Regions from separate parts of the Homo sapiens genome. Here region 2 is linked to region 1. Evidence: fine-mapped expression QTL. A gene starts in region 1. The other region holds a variant in brackets. All regions are shown on one strand. Distances are between the middles of the regions.

Region 1 (8,343 bases):
ACAGCAATGTGACCTAGGCCCCACCAAGCAGGCATAGCCAATGCAAAATTTCAACTTGAAAGTGAGCAAGACAGGCTGGGCACAGTGGCTCGCGCCTGTAATCCCAGCACTTTGGGAGGCTGAGGAGGGTGGATCACAAGGTCAGGAGTTCGAGACCAGCCTGGCCAACAGGTGAAACCTCGTCTCTACTAAAAATACAAAAATTAGCCGGGCGTGGTGGCGGGCACCTGTAGTCCCAGCTACTCGGGAGGCTGAGGCAGGAGAATTGCTTGAACCTGGGAGGCAGAGGTTGCAGTGAGCTGAGATCATGCCACTGCACTCCAGCCTGGGTGACAGAGTGAGACTCCATCTCCAAAAAAAAAAAAAAAAAAAAGTGAGCAAGATGAAGAAGGAAACATGCCTAACTCTGGCTACCAGTGGGGACCGCCAGTGTTTGTGGAAGTTGCAGTTTTGGTGTCAATGGTGGCAGCAGCAATGGATTCTCACTAGATCGTCTAGTGTGTTTGGGTACCGTTGTTTCCATATTTGGCCTCTGGCTCTCCTAGAGATTCTGTGAGCTACATGATTTTTTAAAAGTCCTTTTCTTTCTCAACCAGAGTGGATTCCGTTGCTTGTAACTAACTGCCTGACCTAATCAAGCTGAGATCTGAAAGATGAGTCAGTCGTGGGAAGAGCTGTCAGGGTGGATCAGTAATCTGAGCAGAGGGCACTGAAGAGTGTTGGCTCAAGGAACTGAGAAGAGGATAGTGTGGTGGGAATTTGGTAGAAATCAGGAGAATGATAGTTGATGAGGTTAGAGAGGGAGGCACAGGGTTTAGAACCTGAGGGCTCAGGCCATGGTGAGAAGTTTATGGTTTATGTAAAGTATAATGAAAGTTAACATATGATGGGCAGAGGATGCATGATCTGATTAATGTTTTGCCTCTTAATGTGGAGCACAGATTAGAAGGGGGACAAGAGAGAACATGGGAAGAGTATTAAGGTTAAATCGTATTGAAATTGCATTTCATGTCTGTTCCCTTATGAGACCACTGAAGCCGAGAACCATGTCTAATTCAAAAGTGCACAGCAGGTGCTCAGTGTATTAAAATGAATGAATACACTAATGCACTGAATTTTTGTAACAACTCTGATAGGCAAGTCTTCTGCCCATTCCATAGATGAAAAATCTGGTAAAGAGATCCAAGCATTAGGCACTGTCCTAAGAATGTTACATATATTAACATATTAATCTTAGAACAACCTCATGAGGTATATGCTGTATTATCCCCACTTTACAGATGAAACAACTGAGGCACAGAGAGTTTATGTAATAAGCTCTAGGTTACTCAGCTAATAAGTGGTAGTGCTAGGATCTGAATCCAGGCAGTCTGGCCTCACAGGCTCCACTCTTAACCACTACACAGACTGCCTCATATGGATACTGATGAATTCTAAACACACACACACACATATATATAAAGATACACCTTTAAATGAGTTAGAAGAGTAACTACTATTCATAGAATAAAAATCAAATATAACTTTCAAACCACTAAAGCGGGAAAAAAACTGGAAAAAAAGACTGTCAAACCAAAGGCAGTAAAGAGAACAGGAAGCATGATACATAGAAAAAAATGAGTGAGATATATCTATGAATAAGTTAAGTGTTAGTATTAACAGGGAGAAATCTCAAATGAGGGGGACATGTACATGCTTTTAAAAAACATACCGAAAACAAAATAGAGTTAATAACTGCATTAGCTTTATAGTCAGAGAAACTCTTGCACACGTGTACCAGGAAACATGTACAAGAAAATTTACTGTCAGCAGTTGGTAACAGCAAAAAAAAAACCAAACAACAAAACAAAAAAACTGGGGCAAAAAAATAACCTGTGTTGGCATGGAATGGAGCAACAGCAGCTCTCCTACATTGCTGATGGAGGGTAAGTTAGTACAACCACTGGAGAACAATTTGGCAATATCAAAGTTGAACTGTGCAAACCCTTCCACCTTGCAATTCCATTTCTAGACATTATCCTAAGGAAATTCTTACCATATGTCTAAGAAGCTGTGTGCAAGAACTAACTCATGTTATAATGACAGAAATCAGGAATCATGAAATTGCTAGCAACTGGAGAATGGATAAATGGTGGTACAATTATACAATGGAATACTATTCAGCAGTTAAAATAAAACTAGAACTACAGGAATCATCCTGGATAAATTTTACATACATAATTATAGGTGGCAAAAGTAAGTGACATGCATATCATTTATATTAGGTTTAAAAAGCATAAAACAGTACTTTATGCTACTTAACATCGCTACATGTATTTGGAGCATACATAAAAGCTTTCATGGGAATGACAGATACCAAATTCAATGAAGTAGTTAATTTCAGAGAGGAAGAGAGGGAGAATGAGATTGCAGGCAGTTTCACAAGGAGCTCTAACTGAATGTTAAAATCTGAAGCAAATAAGAGAAAATGTTAAAATGGGATAAAGCTAGATGGTTGGTATACAAGTGTTCATTATATTATTTTCTGTAACTGTACATTCTGGTAATATTTCATATTAAACATTTTAAAGGAAAGTTAAGCTTCCAAGATTCTATAAAAAGAACAAAATAAACCCAAAGAGATAAGAAGAAATTAATGAAGGCATACATTAATGAAAGAGAAATTACTTTTAAGACAGATTTTATCTATAAAACCAAAAGCTGGTTTGATAAATATGATCAAGAAAAAGACTCCAATACAATATATAAGAATATATATATAAGAATATATAAGAATGGTTGAGAACAATATGAGATTTTTTTAAATGTTAGAAAATATAGCTGAAATACTTTTTTTTTAAAGATGGAGTCTCGCTCTGTCCCCCAGGCTGGAGTGCAGTAGCAAAATCTCAGCTCACTGCAAGCTCCGCCTCCCGGGTTCAAGCCATTCTCCTGCTTCAGCCTCCTGAGTAGCTGGGACTACAGGCGCCCGCCACCATGCCCGGCTAATTTTTCATTGTCGTATTTTTAGTAGAGACGGAGTTTCACCGTGTTAGCCAGGATGGTCTCGATCTCCTGACCTCGTGATCCGCCCTCCTCGGCCTCCCAATGTGCTGGGATCACAGGCGTGAGTCACCGCACCCGGCCAATACTTTTCTAGAAAAAACTAATTTTCTCAAGAAGCAAAAGAAAAAATTCTAGGTATCAATAACGATGGACGCTATATAAAAAACAAAACTATCCATTAAGATGGCACCACACCCAGAAGGCTTTAAAGATGAGTTCTTCAAAACCTAAGAAATGTATCATTCACACATGCTATGTCTATTCCAGGTCATACAAAAATAAGTTAACCTGTCTGACTCCTAGCACAACCTGATACCAAAACTAGACAAGGACAGCAAAAGAAAACCATAAGCCAATCTAACTTAGGTGCATACATGAAAATCCAAAATTAACTACACAGCAAATTGCATCCAGCAATATATTGAAAAAATAAGATACCAGGATTCTAAGTTTGGCTCACCATTAGAAAATCTATTATTGTAGTTATTTTATTGTAGAGTAATGGAAAAAAGGCCATACAATCATCTCAAAGACTGATACTGAAAATACTTGGTAAAACTTAGTCATTTGCTGATTAAAAAAAAAACCGATATGGTAAACTACGAAAAGAACATAATTTGCCTATACACCCACACACACACACACCATAAACCTGCAGAAGATATCTTGAATGAAACCTAAGATGCAATCCAAAATAACTCCTGGTAAGAAATAAGTACCTCCGGCTACTATTCAGTGTTGCACTGGATTCTTGGGAAAAGCCAAAATTGTTCTTTACAGATAAATTCTTACCTACAAATCAAAGAGGACTGCCTGTCAAATTTTTAGAATACGAACGTTTAGTGAAGTGTCCAGATAGATCAACAATCAAAAGCCATTCTTATACAAGGATACTAATGGATTAATAGTCTATTAGTAAAAACAAACTACAATAACAAAAATAGCTATGAAAAAATGTTAAATGCGCACAACACCAAGCGAACTGCAACGCTTTACCTGAAAAACAAAGGGAGAACTGAATTAATTTAAAAAAATAGCCACATTGCTGGACGGGAATTCTCAATATTGTACTAGTATCCAATCTCGGCAAATCTACAAAAATATGGAATCCCAAACAAATCCCTGGAAATCTTTGCCATTTGGGCGCCAATCTACTAAAGAAATCGGCCCCAGGGTGTGAGGTTTCTCACATGTGCGTGAAAACGCTTCGAGAGGGGTGCAGCCGCGGACACAAAAACCGTGGCTTGAGTCCCCGCGCCCCTCCCCTCCCCTCCCCTCCCTCCCTCCAGTCCAGCAGCTCTTGCCTAAGGCTCCCGCGACCGGAAGAGTCGCTTCCGCTCCCGCCCCGCTCTGTGGCGTAGGCCGGACATTTCTAGTCGACTGTTGCGCGTGCGCGCGCTGTGACGTTCCCTACGCGGTCGGGCGTTGGGTTTCGCGGCGCTCGCCGCACTGGTTGTTCAGCACCTTCGGTCCGGTTGAGGTTGTCAAGTCGGACCAAACAGGTTGTTTCTCTGCAGTTTCCAGTAAGTGACCGTTCCAGCCGGGGCTGTGGCTAGAGTGTGAAGGCAAACCGGTAGAAGCCGCGCCGCCATTTTCTTCCCACCTCACTCTTTCCTCAATCTCCCTTCGGTCACTCCGAGGGGACTGTTGGTAGCCCCCCTCTGCCCGGTCCCCCGCTAATGAGGCCGCTCCCAAGCTCTGAGTTTCCCCAAAAGATGTGTCCTTTGTCATGAAAGCTCTCGTAGTATTTAAGTGCTAATACTCGACGGCCGCCGACTTCTCAGATGCACCCTGGAGGGTGTGCTCTTGGCCTGACACTTATTAGCCCTTCCGCTTCCTACAGTTGTGATGGGCCCTCAGATACTCACCAGGAAAATGTGATGCCCGCACCACCACTTCTTACTCCAACTTTCTTTGTAATTATGTCCTCTGTTTCAGAATCCTACTGCCGCGGAACAAAAATGTACCAAGGACCATTCCACTTAACGTCCCTCCCTTCCTTCTCAAACCCTTAAGAGTGCCTTAAGAGTAAGGTACTGACCTAAGTGCTTTACATGCATTTTATTTAATCTTCCCACGCAGTCCTTAAGTAGGCAGACATGAGAAAATTGAGGCACAGAAAAGTTTAATAATTTGCTCAAGGCAACATAGGTTGGATGTGGTAGGGCTGAAATTTGGATTTATTGTGTAGCTTACTCAATCTGGTGTTGTTATCATTCATTCCTTTCTCTTTCCCAAATACTGAGTATTCCTTTTTTTCTTAGTTGCTTCTACAGAGGAATTTTTTTCCTTAATGCTGTTTAGAGGGTTCTTCTTGAGAAATTTGGGTTCTGTCTGAAAACCCTTTTCTCAGAGCTCTCCTTACACAGACGCTTAAGTGTTGTTTTTCCAAATCTAAGCTCTAAACTTAATAATATTTTGCATATCCAAAATGTGCTCATGCTTCCTTAAAAAAGTACCCCTAAACCAGTACCCACCAACCAGCCCCCTTCCTCTACCTCAATATGACAATGGTTATCACTATTCTCAGCAAACATTTGGGCAGCTAGCTTATGTAAGACAATAAAGGTAATTGGGGTTTTGAAGAACTCTGAGGTTTAGTTCCGACCTGAAGGAGAAACATGAAAAGGCCTTCATAAAAAGGCCACATAAAATAGCAGATAAATCCCATCTCAGTTGCACAGAATACAAATTGTATAAGAGCAACTTTGGACAAATCAGGTAAAAGTGCTAGATGTGTTTACTCATCTGTAAAATGTTAAGGTTAGGCTAGGTCACTAAAATATTATAAATCTAATTTCAGAGAGAGGAGTGATAACTCTGTACTCACTATTGAGGGAGGTGGAGGCTGTAGTTTGTTTTTAGTGTTTTTTTTTGTTTTTTTGTTTGTTTGTTTTTGAGACAGGGTCTCACTCTGTCGCCCAGGCTGGAGTGCAGTGGCGTGATCAGAGCTCACTGCAGCCTCCACCTCAGCCTCCTGAGTATCTGGGACTACAGGTGTGCACCACCATGCCCGGCTAATTTTTGTATTTTTTGTAGAGACAGGGTCTCACTATGTTGCCCAGGCTGGTCTTGAACTCCTGGCTTCAAGCAGTCCTCCCACCTTGGCCTCCCAAAGTGCTGGGATTACAGGTATGAGCCACTGCACCCCACCTGTAGTGTGTTCTCGATACAGAGACAAGGTTGAAGGATTCAGAGTACAATTTTCTCATTTTGAATATCTGATAAAATCTGTAGACCCTCCATCAACAGAGGATTGGGTAAAGAAAATGTGGTGGTGTGTGTGTGTGTGTGTGTGTGTGTGTGTATGCCATGGAATACTATTTAGCCATTAAAAAGTCATGTTTTTTCAGCAACATGGATAGAACTGGAAGCCATTATCCTAACCGAAATAACTCAGAAAGCCAAATATCACATGTTCTCACTTAAAGCAGGAGCTGAGAAGTGATGGGTACACGTACATATAGACACTGCAGACTACAAAAGGTGGGAGGATGGGAGGGGGGTGAGGGTTGAAAAGTTACATACTGGGAACAATGCTCACAATTTTGGTAATGGGTACACTAAAAGCCCAGGCTTCACCACTGTGCAATATGTACATCTAAGAATTCTGCACTCGTACCCTCTAAATATATAAAAATTATGTTTTTCTGAGACAGTCTTGCTTTGTCACCCAGGCTGGTGCAATCTTGGCTCACTGCAACATCTGCCTCCTGGGTTCAAGTGATTCTCATGCTTCAGCCTCCCGAGTAGCTGGGACTATAGGTGTGCACCATCACACCTGACTAATTTTTGTAACTTTAGTAGATATGGGTTTTGCTACGTTGGCCTGGGTGGTCTCAAACTCCTGGCCTAAGCAATCAACCCACCCCGGCCTTCCCAAGTGCTAGGATTATAGGTGTGAGCCATGAGACCCAGCCTAAAAATAAATTTTTTAAAAAAGCTGTAGATCTTGCTCTGGAAATAAAATTCACATCCATACAACATTTTATGCTTAATTTTAGGAGATTTGTTGACTACTCCTTCTCAAATTTAAATGTTAAAAACCCTTGATTTAGGGAAAAAGTATTATTCAGAACACCAGAACTAAGCCAGATGTGGAAGGCCTTTATCTTGTGGGCAGTGTTGAACCATTTGAGGTCTAAAAAGATAAATCTGGTAGCAGTATGAAAAATGCATGACAGTGGGAAAAAGCAACGAGACTAGTTAAGTGGCAGGGGAATCATTTAGGTAGGAGACTGTGCCAAGCAGTATTGGGAATGAAGAGAAATCAGAAGAAGTATTGACAAGGACAAATCAAATATCTGACTGGATATGGAATTGAAAGAGGAAATCAATGATAACAAGGTTCGAGGATCAGTTATGCTGCAGGTCTACCTTGTCTTCAGTATTTTATTGAAGTCATTCCTATAACATCTGTGCTAGTGCTTGCTTCAGTAGCACATATACTAAAATTGGAATGATACAGAGAAGATCAGCAAATAAAAATTTAAGTACAAATTTAAAAAAGAAACAAACATACGTGCTCTAAGAGCACTCCCAACCCAACAGACATTAAAAAGGATGAGGTAATACACGAACACCTCTGTACTTATAAATTTGATAATGTGAGAGAAATGGGCCACTATCAAAATTACCAAAACTCACCCAGGACAAAATAGGTAAATGAAATAGTCCTATAAGTATTAAAGAAATAGAATTTGTGAGAAAAACGAACAAACAAAACGACAACCAAAAAACAAACCCTGGCAAGAGTCTTCTTGCCAGGAAGAAAAAAAAAGAATAATAACTTTAAAAAAAAAGAAAGCTCCAGGCCGAGATAATTTCACTGGCAAATTTCACCAAACATTCAAGGATGAAAAAATAACAGTTCTCTTACAAGCTCTTTGGATCGTAGAAAAGGAAGAAACACTTAACTCATTTTATGAAGGCAGCATTTTCTGGATACCAAAACCAGATAAAGACAATACAAAAAACAAATCTAAAAGTTAAAATCCCTCATGAACAAAGATACAACTTCCTCAAAAAATAATAGCAAATTGAATTCAGCAGTATATTAGAAAAATAGTACATTGTGACGAAGTCTCATCCCAGGAATTCAATATTTGAACATCATATAATCCTCCATATTAACAGACTAAATAAGAAAAACTACATGATGCTATTAATAGATGCAGAAAAACACTTAAGAAGATTCAGCATTCATTCATTATTCTTAAAACTCAGCAAACAAGTAATAGAAGAGAACCTAATAAAAGTCATCGACAAAACCCATAGCTATTGTTATATTTAATGGTG
Region 2 (8,343 bases), 44 kb after region 1:
AGGTTTATTTGGTTTATGGTTCTGCAGGCTGCACAAGAATGGCGCCAGTATCTGCTTCTGGCAAGAGACTGAGGCTGCTTCCACTCATGGCAGAAGGTGAAGGGGCGCCTGCAACTGCAGATCTCATGGTGAGAGAGAAGGCAAGAGAGAGAGGAAGAGGTACCAGGCTCTTTCAACAACCAGTTCTAGGTGAACTGTTGTGGGAACTAATAGAGTTAGAACTCACTCATTACTGAGAGAATGGCACCAAGACATTCATGAAGGATCTGCCCCCATGATCCAAACACCCCATTAGGCCCCACTTCCAACATTGGGGATCAGATTTCAACATGAGGTTTGGAGAGTCAAATATCCAAACGATAGCAATGGTGAAAATGTGTGCTGGGCTTATTGAAGGAATAGAACAGTGTACATTTATAAAAGAACAAGAAATCATCACAGTTTATAATGTCTAAGAGAGAGTTCTAAATCAAAAGCATTGTTAATGAGGCAGATGACTCTGGAGGAAACATTTTAAAAAGCCATCCAGCAGAAAGCCTTCTTATCCTTAGAAGACCCACTTCTTGGTCTCTCACCTGCTTCTGATAACTTAGAAAAATGGTGTATAGTAACCTTTTAATCAAAACACAGCATGATAGGTGGGGACTGAAAGCCTGCCATTGTTTGTTGTTGCTGTTGTTTCACAGCTGATACAGGTATTCTGGTGGTGCTACTGTGCTGCTTAGTTACCCTGAATGCATTATTTTTTCACTGTATTACTGGTATGTCATATTTTTTGCTGTTACGTACTTTTGTGTGAATAAGTATAGGAAAAGGATTCCTTATCAGTAGCAAATAAATAAATTCAGAGTCAGGAATGATGGTGATGCCCATCAACCACAGATTACCCACATGGGTAGTGGTTGAGGTAGTGACACCTTTGTTTTCTGGTGGTATGATGCATGCAAATTTTATTTTATGCACAAAATTATTAAAAATTATTGCATAGGTCAGGCACGATGGATTATGCCTGTAATCCCAGCACTTTGGGAAGCCGAGGCAGGTGGACCTTTTGAGGTCAGGAGTTCTAGACCAGCCTGGCCAACATGGTGAAACCTCATCTCTACCAAAAATACAAAAATTAGCCAGGCATGGTAGTACGCGCCTATAATCCCAGCTACTCTGGAGGCTGAGGCACAAGAATCTCTTGAATCCGGGAGGCAGAGGTTGCAGTGAGCCAAGATCGTGCCACTGCACTCCAGTGTGGGTGACAGAGCAAGACTCTGTCTCAAAAAATTATTGGCTGGGTGTGGTGGCTGACACCTGTAATCCCAGCACTTTGGGAGGCCAAGGTGGGTGGATCACAGGAGTTTGAGACCAGCGTGGCCAACATGGTGAAATCTTGTCTCTGCTAAAAATACAAAAATTAGCTGGGCGTGGTGGAGCGTGCCTATAATCCCAGCTACTTGGGAGGCTAAGGCCACAAGAATTGCTTCAACCTAGGTGGTGGAGGTTGCAGCGAGCCGAGATCCCACCACTGCACTCCAGCCTGGGTAGTAGAGCGAGACTCTGTCTCAAAAAAAAAAAAAAAATTATTGTATAAAATTATCTTCTGGCTATGTGTTTAAGGTATATGTGAAATATAAACTAAGTTTATTAATTAATTTATTTGTTTTGAGACAGGATCTGTCTCTGTCACCCAGGCTGAAGTGTAGTGATGCAATCCTAGTTCACTGCAGCCTTGAACTACTGGGCTCAGTTGATCCTCCCACCTCAGCTTCCTGAGTAGCTGGAACCACAGGTGCATGCTACTGCACCTGGCTAATTTTTAATTTTTTTTTTCTAGAGACATGATCTCTCTATGTTGCACAGGCTGGTCTCAAACTCCTGGCCTCAAGGGATCCTCCTGCCTCAGCATCCTGAGTAGCTGGGATTACAGGCATGAGCCACTGCGACCAGCCTTGAATTTTGTTTTTAGAACTTGGGTCCTATCCTTAAGATATCTCATTCTGTATATGTGAATATTCCAAAATCACAAAATATTTAAGATTAGAAATACTTCTGGTCCCAGGAATTTTGGATAAAGAATACTCAACTTGTATCTTTGTTTGCCTGGAGGCCTTGGGTGATGTGATTTACGATAGGGCTGGCCACACCAGATAGTCTAAAAATGTGATTTAGGATGGGGAAAAAATCAATTTTAAAAGGTCTTACAACCCAGTAGACAAATGTGCAGAAGATATGACCAGACAGCTCACAAAAGGAAGATATAAATGCCTCTTAAATTTATTTAAAGATGCCCAAACTTACTCGTGGTAACAAAAATGAAGATTTTAATTAAACATGTCATTTTTCACCTATCTAATTAGTTAAAAGATTCAAAAGTTTGTTATCACATCATGTGATAACATGGGGAACAAGGTTCGGGGAAGTGTAGGTCCTTTCTGCTGATGGGAAAGAACATTGATTCAGCGTCAGTGGAGGGCAGTATGACAATATCTATTAAAATTAGGAATATATATAATCCAGAGTCCTCAATTACACTTCTAGTAATTTATTCACACACCTTTAAAACCACCTTTACAGGTTATTTGTAGCAATATTGTATGTAAAAGATTGGAAACAACATAAATGTCCATCTGCAGTAGGCTGATTAAATTCTGGAATCTCTATACAGTGGAATATATTGCAATCAAAAAATACTAAGTAATCCTTTGCTTACTGATTAGGAATGGCCTTCAAGTTATAGCCACACAGGATGGTGTGTAAAAATATGTTACCATTTATGGAAGTAGTGGTGTTGAAGGGAAGAACATATATATTTAGTTGCCTATAAATGCATACAAGTATCTTTGGAAAGATATGCAAAAAAATTGTAAGATTTCTTGTTATCTTTGGGAAATATTATGGTCTAAATGTGTTTCTCCAAAATTCATATGCTGAAATTCTAATCCCCCAATGATATATTAGATGGTGGGGACTTTGGGAGGTAATTAGATTTAGATGAGATCATGAGATTAGATACCCCATGATGGGATTAGTGCTCTTATAACAAGAAGAAGAGGCCAGGCGTGGTGGCTCACCCTTGTAATTCCAGCACTTTGGCAGGCTGAGGCAGGCAGATCACTTGAGGTCAGGAGTTCGAGACCAGCCTGGCCAACATAGTAAAACCCCGACCCTACTAAAAATACAAAAATTGACGGAGCGTGGTAGTGCACACCTGTAATCCCAGCTACTTGGGAGGCTGAGGCAGGAAAATTGATTGAACCCAGGAGATGGAGGTTGCGGTGAGCCGAGATTGTACTACTGCACTCCAGCTTGGGTGAAAGAGTGAGACTCCGTCTCAAGAAAAAAAAAAATTAAGAAGACGACGAGATATTAGAGCTTCCTCTCTCAACTCTGTGGGAATACCATGATAAGAGGTAGTCTGGAGACCAGGAAGTGGGCCCTAACCAGACATTGAATCTGATGACAACCTAATCTTGGGCTTCCAAATTTCTAGAACTGTGAGAAATGTCTGTTGTTTAAGCCACCCACCTGTGGCATTTTGTTATAACAACCGTAAGTGTCTTAAGGGAAAATTTAGATGGCTGGTTGACAGGTGGAAAGGAGATGTTTTGCTATTTAAATTTTGGGCCATGAATATAATCACTACTAAAAAATAAGGTCTGTGTCTTTTTTTATTGAAGCAATCATTAATATGTTTTCTTTTGTTTTAAGGACAAAATATGAAACACCAAGAAAAAGAGAAGGAAAAAAAGGAGGAAACAACCACATATGTCACCTTTCCAAGGTATCATGTGTTTCATGTTTAAGAAATTTATTTTGCAGTACTTTTGGTAGTCGGTTTA[C/CT]TTTTTTTTTTTTTTTTTTTTTGAGATAGGGTCTCACTCTGTCGCCCAGGCTAAAGTACAGTGACACGATCACAGCTCACTGCAGCCTCGACCTCCCTGGGCTCAGGCAATTCTCCCACCTCAGCCTCCTGATTAGCTGGGACTACAGGTGTGTGCCATCACATCTGGCTATTTTTTGTAGACGTGGGGGTTTGCCGTGTTGCTCAGGCTGGTCTCGAACTGGGCTCAAGAAATCCTCCTGCCTCGGCCTCCCAAAGTGCTGGGATTAGAGGCATGAGCCATCACACCCAGCCTGGTTTACAAATCACAGTGTACGACATGTTAAGGAAAATATTATGCGTATAATTTTTCTTGTTGGTTATATAAACTGCATACTTTAAAATTTAGATATATATTGTCATCTCTTAAATATATCAAGAATAGTAGCAATCCCACATATTTCAAAGCATTAAAAATTGCCAATTGGATTTTATCTCTGTACCCTGAGATGACATTCAGTGAACAGGTGTCTCTTTCAAAGTTTATTTTTGAAAATATGTATTAACATAGCATAGTTTCATATAGTGTTCTTGAAGTCACATGATATAATTAAAATACAGAATTACAATATCCTTAGAAAAAACATTTATTGAAAATAACAAATGGGCCAGGCATGGTGGCCTGTAATCCCACCACTTTGAGAGGCCAAGCCGGGAGCACTGCTTGAGGCAAGGAGTTCAGATCAGCCTGGACAGCATACTGAGACTCCATCTCTATAAAAAAATTTTTAAATTAGCCAGGTGTGATGGTATGCATCTATAGTTCTAGCTACTCAGGAGACTGGAGTGAGAGGATAGTTTGGGCCCAGGAGTTCGAAGTTACAGTGAACTGTGATCACACCACTGCACTCAGAGTGAGACCCTGTCTCACAACAAAAAAAATTTTTTTTTTTTTGAGACGGAGTCTTGCTCTGTTGCATAGGCTGGAGTGCAGTGGCATGATCTCTGCTCACTGCAACCTCTGCCTCCCAGGTTCAAGTGATTCTCCTGTCTCAGGCTCCCGAGTAGCTGGGACTACAAGTGCATGCCACCATGCCTGGCTAATTTTTGCATTTTTAGTAGAGATGGGGTTTCACCACATTGGTCAGGCTGATCTCAAACTCCTGACCTCAGGTGATCCACCTGCCTTGGCCTCCCAAAATGCTGGGATTACAGGCATGAGCAACTGCGACTTGCCAAAAAAAAAATTTTTTTTAAGTAAAAATGTCCTGTGACTCTCAAATATGATCAAAATGACAAAGTTGGTTTTCATCTTGTATGGAATATTTAGGATACTATCTGCCCTAACAAATCAGGTGCTTTACAAATACATTTAGAAATTGCTTTAACTTGACTTGGTGTGCTGGCTTACACCTGTAATCCTAACGTGGTGGCAGACACCTGTAATCCCAGCTGTTCGGGAGGTTGAGGCAGGAGAATGGCTTGAACCCAGGAGGTGGAGGTTGCAGTGAGCCGAGATCGTGCCATTGCACTCCAGCCTGGGCACCAACAGCAAAACTCCATCTCAAAAAAGAAAAAAAATTACTTTAACTTGCTTAATATGGTATCTGAACTTGAACACTTCATGTCTGTATTTGTGACTATGCTTCTTATTTTATATTTATTCACGCTTTTTTTTCTATGGACTCCAAGAAGGCAGAAGCTAATAGAAAATAAATACTTCCCTAAGGGTACAATTCCATGGGTGCCCAGAGCAATTATTAATCTGTTTCAGATTGGTAGATCATGTAGTCCTCCCCAAAGGAGATGGCGGTATTTGAATCAAATCTTAAAGGATGAGTAAATTTTACTAGGCAGAAAAAAGGGTAAAGAGCATTCCAGGCTGAGGGAAAAGCATTAGCAAAGGTAAAGAGGAACAAAAGTTCATTTTGGATCAGGATATTTGCAGTTGAAACTGGAACATAAGATGAGAAGTGGCATGTAGTAAGAAATTAGACCAAAGTAGTAGTTTGGAACTAGTTTGGATTTTACTCTGTAGGCATTGGGAACATTTGAACATCTTAAAACAGAAATGACATTTTCTAACCTTTGTTCTAGGAATATAATTCAATATCAGAATGATTTGGAAGGAAAAAACCTACAGGAAGCTATTGTAGCCTAGTGAGGAAGATAAATATTAATACAGCCAATTTATAGATCAGACTAAAGACAATGATTGGGGCATTGAAAAGAACAGATAGAAGAAATATTGCAAAGGTAAAATCTGTATGACCTAGTAACTGGATATAGAAAGTCTGGAAGACATAGTTTTATAGAAATGCATTGTTTTAATGGGATAAATCTTATTAAAGGATCATCCTAAATGGTTTTTTAATACTGTGCACAAAGTTCCCAAATTTAAAGCATACAAATTTTGGAAATTAAAAGTTTTGCAAAATGGATGATTCCTTTAAAATAAGTATAATAAAGATTGATGGACTTCAGGCAGACTTGGCAGGATACAAGTTTTCATACTCAGTAGAGGACTCTTGTAAGTCATAGGTACCCTATAGTGTTATAATATCAACCCACCTTGGTGTGATTGGTGTCCTTATTTGCCACATAATCAACTAGTCAAATTGTAGAAGAGGAATAATCTGGTTAATAAATAATTAAACCTTATCAGATTCTAAAATTAATATTTGACAGATAAAGGATTTAAATATACTTAACTTTATAAATACCATCAGATATTTTTCCTAGGAAAAAGGTAATATGGTTGTTGCTGATGGTATTTATAAAGTTAAGTATAGTTAACACTTCAACAACATGGTTTGAACTTCAGGAGTCCACTTACATGTAAATTTATTTCAACCAAATGTGGATTGACAATACAGTATTTGTGGGATGCAAAACCTGCATATACTGAGGGCCAACTTTTTGTCAGCTGGTTCCACAAGGCTAACTGTGAGACTTGAGTATGCGTGAATTTTGGTATATGTGGAGGTCCTGGAACCAAACTTCCATGTCGACTGAGGCACAACCGTATCTCAAAATAAACATTGCATTGTGTTTTTACAGTTCTTCTATACTCTATAAAAACATTTCATTTGTGTTTAGTACACACTTGAACTAAAATTTCTAAGTAATTCCTACATTGCAAATGTTTGTTTTGTAGTAAATTGGAGGTAAATAGAGTCATTTGCTTGGAAAATTTTCTTGGAGGCCACAAATCCAGTGTCTAATGCAAGCAATGTCTAATGCAAGCATTCTGTCATAAACTGTTTCATTAGGATGGGGCACTCTACTATATAATTGATAGGCTGGGATTTGCCACCCAACTGACCAACTATTACAAGGATTTGGATAATTATAAATTACTTTTCTTCCTTTAAAATCTCCAGCACAGGCTGGGCCCAGTGGCACACGCCTGTAATCCCATCACTTTAGGAGGCTGAGGTGGGTGGATCACTTGAGGTCAGGAGTTCAAGACCAGCCTGGCTAACATGGTGAAACCCTGTCTCTACTAAAAATACAGAAATTACTGGGTATGGTGGTGCATGCTTGTAATTCCAGCTACTCGGGAGGCTGAGGCGTGAGAATCGCTTGAACCTGGGAGGTGGAGGTTGCAGTGAGTCTAGATGGCACCACTGCCATCCTGGGCAGCCTAGGTGACAGAGCAAGACTCCATCTCAGAAAAAAAAAAGAAAGAAAGAAAATCTCCAGCATATAACAATTGTGGATAATGTCAGGGCTGAATCAGTGGATGTCATCTAATAATAATAATAATAATAATAATAATAATAATAATAATAATAAAGCTTTTAATTTCTCAGTGCTTAGTATTGACCTGCTTCTTCTCCAGAATTCTTCATATTAGTAGATTTACAACCCAAGCCTGATCTGGGGATCATTCTTGATTATTCTCTCTCACCATTCCCCTGCCATTACTACCACACATGCATTTTTAGTGACAGTTATTATAGGTTTGGTCTCTTGAAAGCTCTTGTTTTTCTTTTTAGCTTACAAAGACTAAAAAGTGAATCTTCAAATTCCCAGCCTCCCTTACAGCTAGTAATAGCCATTTAGCACAATTTCTGGCCCCAGTGATACAAGGTAAAATTCTTGTAATCTTAGAAACATTATTCTTTTTTTTGAGACGGAGTCTTGTTCTGTCACCCAGGCTGGAATGCAATGGCACGATAGTGGCTCACTGTGACCTCTGCTGCCTGAGTTCAAGCGATTCTCCTGCCTCAGCCTCCCAAGTAGCTGGGATTACAGGCACCTGCCACAATGCCCAGCTAATTTTTGTATTTTTAGTAGAGACGGGGTTTCACCATCTTGGCCAGGCTGGTCTTGAACTCCTGACCTCCTGATCCACCTGCCCTCTGCCTCCCAAAGTGCAGGGATTACAGGCATGAACCACTGCATAGAAACATAATTCTAAGATGAGAGTTAAATAGGTTCAAATTAGAATACAATAGATTGGGGGCATGTGCCCAAGTTTCATTTAACTCAGTGAGGGAACCAGTAGGATGAAAAAGTTAGTTGAAATG

Evidence for each region. PIP is the estimated chance that this variant, and not a neighbour inherited with it, causes the effect.
Region 2: its variant is the best candidate, but not a certain one, in a credible set for the expression of LINC00467 in lymphoblastoid cells (GEUVADIS, PIP 0.75).

Annotation. Positions count from the first base shown.
Region 1 is chr1:211,378,358-211,386,700 of GRCh38, forward strand. It overlaps LINC00467 (long intergenic non-protein coding RNA 467), which reads left to right and starts at 4,398. Exons shown (of 6, transcript NR_026761.2): 1 at 4,398-4,568. LOC124904504 (a long non-coding RNA gene) reads right to left here and starts at 4,387. Exons shown (of 2, transcript XR_007066868.1): 1 at 4,236-4,387; 2 at 1-4,041. It overlaps LOC107985259 (a long non-coding RNA gene), which reads right to left and starts at 5,927. Exons shown (of 2, transcript XR_001738447.1): 1 at 4,914-5,927; 2 at 4,469-4,597. RefSeq lists an enhancer at 4,511-4,580.
Region 2 is chr1:211,422,512-211,430,854 of GRCh38, forward strand. It overlaps LINC00467 (long intergenic non-protein coding RNA 467), which reads left to right. Exons shown (of 6, transcript NR_026761.2): 5 at 3,700-3,772. Among named protein-coding and RNA genes, the nearest start is that of LINC00467, 44 kb to the left of the region's middle. The variant C/CT (reference allele first, on the strand shown) is at 3,831.